2 linked regions of the Homo sapiens genome follow. The protein of the gene in region 2 purifies or fractionates together with the protein of the main gene of each other region. This does not show direct contact. Each region holds a gene or a part of one and is shown on either strand. Other genes may lie near its edges.

Region 1 (3,655 bases), on a different chromosome or scaffold from region 2:
GGTGGATCACGAAGTCAGGAGTTTGAGACTAGCCTGGCCAATATGGTGAAACCCCATCTCTACTAAACATACAAAAATTAGCTGGGTGTGGTGGTGCATGCCTGTAGTCCTAGCTACTCAGGAGACTGAGGCAGGAGAATCACTTGAACCAGGGAGGCAGAGGTTGCAGTGAGCTGAGATCGGGCCACTGCACTCCAGCCTGGGTGACAGAGCGAGACTCTGTCTCAAAAAAAAAAAAAAAAAAAAAAGATAAAATCTAATTCTGTGTGAAGCTTGTTTAATTCATTGCCAATAATAGTGATAGCTGATATGTAATGCATAGCATGCATGGACATGACACTGTATTATGTGCACTGCATAGATTCTCATGCAATTAGCCCCACAACCCCATGAAGCCTATGCCATTTTTATCCCTGATTTACAGGGAACTCAATTTTGAGGCTCAGAGATTGAATAACTTGGTCCAGGTTAGTTAGGAAATGGCAACAATGGAATTTTAAAGCCATATTTTTCAAATTTCTGAGCGTACACTCTTGCTACTACATTTTATTCCATGTTTTATTTGAAAACCGTTAAGTTTATATTCAGCATAAGACATGAAACTATGTGATCATTACATTATACAAACAATGTAACAGGATTCTTGTTGATTTCCAACAGTGAAGCACATGACTACATTTTTTGGAGAAGAGAGGTCATTTTGTTCAGACCATTTGGAAAGATATATGTGAGGCAAGTTACAGTGACAGAGCAGAGAGGCTGGAAGTGGACAGTAACAAAGAGACCATTTCTAAGTTCATGTGAGCTTAATCAAGATTTTAAAATACAATCAGTGTATTTAGGATTCACAACATTATGTTGGGAAGGGACAGGGAATCAGTGACAGAGCTAATGGTGAAGCCAGACAGGGCACCAGCAGTGTTACAAGCTGCAATCATGTCAGACACTTATTTAAGACAGGCCTATTCAGGTATCCAGAGCAGAAGGTGATCATACTTATGTGAGCACTGGGGAGATGTTGCACTTCTTTGAACAGGTCATTTTCCCCCTTCCTGGTCCTCTGAAGGGGGAGAAGATTTCAGGAACTGCAAAGGCTGAAATGCAGCTGAGAGAATGAATGTGTCCCATGTACCTCCAGAGAGCAGAGCAAGGACCAGTATGGAAGTCACAGATGGTGAGATTTCCACTTGACAGAGAGAAGGGTTTAAAGAAGAGTTGTCTAAAGTTTAGGAGGCAGTGGGCAGTTTCATTTCAGGGGATGTTCAAGCAGAGATGAGGAGGTATTATAGCTTCCGCAGAGCAGCAGTTCTGGAAGTTTAGATGCAGAACCCCTCTATTGGAGAGGTATTCAACCCACCCCAAACATCGCTGAGTTGTCAAACTAAATGTCAAAGATCCCAGCACTCCCAGGACACCAGTCTTCCATGTCTAGGCCCCTCCTGTGGGTCATGAAGAAATGTCCACCCAGCTGGCCTTGTTGCTGAGGCAGCCAGCCAAGTCTTGGAACTTGGTGCTGACGGAGGCATGGCCATTTCTTCACCCTGGAGATGCCCTCCTCTGGCTCTCAGAGGTTCCCTGACTTTCCTACTCACCTGTAGAAGCAGCACAAAGTAGTCCACAGGGCGGTTGCGCTGGTAGAGGTAGTGTTCCGGGGCCTTCTTGTTCTTCTCATCAAACTTCAGCTCCTGGATCACGTTGGGATGTTTCAGGAGCCGGAGCAGGATCTTCTCCGAAAGGTACAGAGACTTAAAGGGCTCCACTTCTAGAGGAGAGTGAGTGGGAAGGGAGGAATCAGCATCAGCTGTGTCCCACCCATTCCAGCAGTGGCAGCTGGGAGGAGTCAGAGTGGGCACAACTGGGACCCCTGTGCCTGTACCTGGGCATCAGGTTGGCAGGGCTTCTGCAGTTCCTCCGGAGTGGAGGATCCTAATCCCAAGTGTGCATCTCAGGGCCTTACCCACGTCCTCTGGAGATGTGTGTCCCTGCACTGGCATCTCAGGAGAAACAGGTCTCCATTTGGAAATGTCTGTTTCATTATTAATTTTCTTTGATTTTATTTAAAATTGGACATGGACAACTAAGCCACATAAACAACAAAGACTTTAATGCTATAATTGAATGAAATGCAGATAATTTAATCTGGCTTATTTGTATGACATATATCTGCTGAATGAAATGAAATCCCATGTTACTAAAGACAGGCAATTATTTAAATAATAAGTTGTCAATAATGTGAGGCATCATTGCATCATATTTATATATTACAGCTATTGCTTATATTACATATGTTAAACTTATATTACTTATATAACATAGGCTCTGGGAAGTAGTTAAAAGAAATCTGTACTCAGAACTAGAAATTCTATCTTAAAGCAGCTCCAACTTAAAATTTTCTACTCTTTAGCACCTAAAACAGTGCTAGCACTCATTACATACTCAATAAATATATGTTGGATTAATTAAATATTGAAGTTAGTGATAGATATGATCATTCTAGGTCAGCACATTAATTAGGCATGGATGGTCAGAGGGTTCAAAGACAAACTTTATCTTCTTCACAAGAAGGAGTTTATCTTTGGATTTTCTCACTTTTTTTTCTTTCTAAAGATCCCAAGATTCACAATACACTTCTGTATTTTAAAAATTCATAGCTCACAGGCTTCTGTGGCACTGCTCTAGGGCACTGCAAGTCTAACAGACAGGGAGATGGCCTCGGGCTTCAGCGAGGAAGTGAGTAGAAGAGGGAAAAGTGCAGCAATGGTTTCTTTAGCTCTTTTCTCTGGTAGAAGAGTTGAGTTATACTCATTTCTTCCTCTATGAGATCAGGCCTGGGGCTCAATACGACAGTAGGTGGCATCCATTACCCTGTCTAAGGCAACCTCCTTCCTAGAACAGTGCTTCTCAGTCCTGACAGCACACTGGAATCAGGCTGGAAGGTATTAACAACGATTGGTGCCTGGGTCCCACCCTAGAGATTCTGTTTTAGCTTCTCTGGAGTGGAGACTTGTCCTACCTGTGGCCATGAAGCGGTGTGTGGCTAGCAGAAGCTGTGGTGAGATCTTCACCCGCATCTCCGTGTCCGAAAGCTTAAACAAGGAGAAGTCATGCCGCTTCCGCTCCCGTTGCGGGACCCTCTGCTTTTTCCGATTGTCAGCTGTGGGGTCACAGAGGACAGATTACAGCTATCTCAGAATCACGTTGATCTTTGGAGGTTTTCCCAGAATCACAGGGGACAGATAGAACATTTCTGCAGTGTCAACTATGGGTGACATCACAATATCACCCAGGAAGTAGAAGGATGTTGGTGAGGGATAGACAATGGGAGACTGCCATCATTTCAGTGTTTTCCACACTTAGGGGGTGTATAGTAGAAAAAGGGGAAAGCAGGCTTGGGGTACCCAAGTCTGGGGTTCTGGGGCTGGTTCCCCTACTTACCATGTAATCTCTCTAAGCATTAGAGTTTTTATTTTAATCTGTACAAGGAGGCTAATAATATTTAATATAGCTCTCATACTCATCTTGTGCAATTAATTATGAGACTCCAACTGGAAACTACCTGTGAGAATGCTTTTACCCAAAGTCATACACACACAAGGGACCTGCATTCTTAGTATCAAGAGGGTTGCAGGGGCCCAGGGAATTTCTGACTCTGTCC
Region 2 (3,655 bases):
TCTAGGATGATTTCTTGAAAGCAAGTTTGCAGACACTGATTGATCGATTCATTCATTCATTCATTCATTCATTCATCCATCCATTCTTTCACTGATTTACTTAGATACCATCCTAGGTACAAAGGATTCTACAGCTGAGTAAGGTAGAATGGTTCTTGCGCTTAAGCACCTCGCAATCTAGAGCTGCAATGTCCAATAGTACATTTAGCCACTAGCTACATGTGGCTATTTAAATTTAAACTTAAATGAATTTAAAGTATGCATTTTGTACATGAAATAATTTATATAGTATAATAAAGAATATAAAATGTATATATAATATACAATAGAAAATATGTGGCCAGGTGCAGTGGGTCATGCCTATAATCCCAGCACTTTGGGAGACCGAGGTGGGTGGATCATTTGAGGTCAGCAGTTCGAGACAAGCCTGACCAACATGGTGAAACACTGTCTCTACTAAAAATACAAAAAAAATTAGTCAGGCATGGTGGCACATCCCAGCTACTTGGGAGGCTGAGGCAGGAGAATCTCTTGAACCTGGGAGGCAGAGGTTGCGGTGAGCAAAGATTGTGCCACTGCACTCCAGCCTGGGCAACACAGTGAGACTCTGTCTCAAAAAAAATGTGTGTGTATATATATAATGTAAAATTTTAAAAAAATCTGTCCCTCAGTCATACTAACCACATTTCAAATACTCAATAGCTACATGTGGCTAGTGGCTACTATATTGGACAGCATACGTGTAGGCCAGCAGTCCCCAACTTTTTTGGCTCCAGGGACTGGTTTCTTGGAAGACAATTTTTCCATGGATGGGGGTGGTTAGGTAGGGGGATGGGGTTGGGGTTTCAGGATAAAACCATTCCACCTCAGATCTTCAGGCATTAGATTCTCATAAGGAGCCTGCAACTTAGACCCCTTGTGTGTCAGTTCACAATAGGGTTCACGCTCCTATGAGAATCTAATGCCGCTGCTGATTGACAGGAGGTGGAGCTTGGGCGGTAATGCTCACTCACCCAAGGCTCACTGTGCAGCCCGGTTCCTAACAGGCCAGAGACCGTTACGGGTCCTTGGCCCAGGGATTGGGGACCCCTGGTCTAGGACATTTCCATAATTGCAGAAAGTTCTATTGGACAGCACTGGTTTGGTAGGAGGGAGGACACTGAACACATCATTGCAAATAATTATGAGAATTGTCTTAAGTGCTATCAAGAACTACTGCAAGCCTGGGGAATATATTGAGACCTGTTACTACTAAAAAAATTTTTTTCTTAATTAGCCAGGTCTGGTGGCTCATGCCTGTGGCCCCAACTACTAGGGAGGCTGAGGCAGGAGGATTGCTTGAGCCTGGGGGTTCAAGGCTGCAATGAGCCATGATCATGACACTGCACTCCAGCCTGAGTGACAGAGTGAGATCCTGTCTCAAAAAAAAAAAAAAAAGAACTAATGCAGGGTACAGGTAAGGAAACTAGTTTTAGATGGGAGGTGGGTATCAGGGAAGGCTTCCCTGAGGAAGTGACATTTGACCTGATCCTCTGGAGATATGATTTCAGGAAAAAGAGAGAGGATTAAGAACATTCCAGGAAGAAGAAACTGTATGGGTAAAAGCCCTGAATTGGGAAAAAAGCTTGGTGTGTCTCAAAATCAGCCAAAAGATCATTAATGAACAAGTGGCTTGAGGGGAAACTGCTGAGGATAACAGGGAGTAGGCCATCCAGGGTCTTGTAGTATATGACAAGGAGTTGGGACATCATCCTGCATTTGCTGAATCTACTGTCTCCTTTCTTACAAACCCTGTCTTTCAAGATTGAGTTTGGGTCCACCATTTTAATAAATCTGCCCCTGACTTCTGCCGGTCTTAATCAATAGCAGAGGTAAAAATGTGGAAACTGACTCAGGCAGATCTGGGTTCAAACTCTGGCTCCGGCCCTATCTGGGTGGCCTCGGGCCAAAGCCTTCTTCTCCCCAAGGCTGAGTGCCTATCGGTGAAGTCAGAACAGTGATAATACCTGCAGGGCTGTTGTAAGGATCAGAGAGATAATCGCTGGGAAGCTCTCAGCACAGTGCCTGGCTTTGAGTATGGTCTCGATTTGTGGTGCTGGTATTGTTTTCCTCCACTCAGCATTCGTTTCCCTGATCTTCCAACTTATTAGGTAGTAGGAGCGCCTGGAAGCCACATTCTCCTGTGCAAAACACTAAGAAGATGTCTGGTGTGGTGTGAGAGCACATGTCTGAACTTGAACTCTTCGTCCGTCCTCCACCTGCTCCTCTTTCAGCCTCCCCCATCTCAGTTGATAACAACTCCATTTGTCCCATTTGGCCGGAAACTTTGGAGTCAAGTTAGACTCCCCTCTTCCTCCCATTTCACTTTTTTGTTTTGTTTTGTTTTGTTGAGACAGAGTCTCGCTCTGTTGCCCAGGCTGGAGTGCAGTGGTGTGATCTCAGCTCACCGCAACCTCTGCCTCCCAGGTTCAAGCGATTATCATAGCCACCCCTGTAGCTGGGATAACAGGCATGCACCACCATGCCCAGCTAATTTTTTATAGAGATGGGGTTTTGTCATGTTGGCCAGGCTGGTCACCTGGCTCCAAGTGACCCTCCCGCCTTGGCCCCGCAAAATGCTGGGATTACAGGCATGAGCCACCATGCCTGGCCCCATTTCACTTTCAGTCCATCAAGAAATCCTTTGGTCCTGCCTTCAACTTAACACCCAGACTCCCACCCCTTCTGCTGCAATCCTCTGGTTCAAGTATCCATCCTCTCTCACTGGGATTGATTGCAATGATGTCTGTGCTGGTTTTCCCGCTCCTGCCCTTGCCTCCCTATAGCCCATTCTCAACCCAGTGGCCAGAGGGATTCTTTAAAAGTCAGATCATGTCCTTCCTTGGCTCAAAAATCTTCTATGGTTCCCATCTCACCTCATCTCTTTCACTATCCTACCCATTCATGCTGCTGCCTCCCTGCTGTTCCTCAGCCATGCCAGCCAGGCTCCTGCCTCAGGATCCACCCGCTAGAAAGCTCTTCTCCAAGGTACCTGCTTCACTCTCATAAAGTCTCAAATACCACCTTCTCACCAAAGCTTACCCTAATAACTCTCTTTAAATTTGCAGCCCTCTCATATACCCATCAGGATGGCTACTATTAAAATAAAAAATACCTGAGCTGGGCATGGTGGTTCAAGCCCATAATCTCAGCACTTTGGGAGACCAATGCGAGAGGAATGCTAGAAGCCAAGAGCTGTGAGACCAGCCTGGGCAACAAAGCAAGACCCCGTCTCTACCAAAAATTTTGAAAAACTAGCCAGCCATGGTGGTGTGTGCCTGTAGTCCCAGCTACTTAGGAGGCTGAGGAGGGAAGATTGCTTGAGCCCAGGGTTTTGAGGCTGCAGTGAGCTATGAATGTGCCACTACACTCCAGCCTGGGTGATAGAATGAGACCCTGTCTCAAAAAAGAAAGAAAGACCAAAAAAATCAGAAAATAACAAATGTTGGTGAGGATGTAGAGAAATTGGAACTTTTGCACACTGTTGGTGAAATATAAAATAGTGTAGCCATCATGGAAAAGAGTATGGCAGTTCCTCAAATGTAAAAATAAAAATAATGCCATGTGACCCAGTAATTCCACTTCTGGTTATAGATGCAAAATAATGGGAAGCAGG

What was found.
Region 1: the proteins of SVOP (region 2) and CNNM1 purify together in Homo sapiens (affinity purification with mass spectrometry; one large-scale study listed by BioGRID and IntAct). This does not show direct contact.

The regions. Positions count from the first base shown.
Region 1 is NC_000010.11:99,360,334-99,363,988, reverse strand, and holds part of CNNM1 (metal transporter CNNM1), read right to left. Parts: intron 3,155-3,655; coding exon 3,014-3,154; intron 1,763-3,013; coding exon 1,593-1,762; intron 1-1,592. UniProt on the Homo sapiens protein: Probable metal transporter.
Region 2 is NC_000012.12:109,014,527-109,018,181, reverse strand, and holds part of SVOP (synaptic vesicle 2-related protein), read left to right. Parts: intron 1-3,655.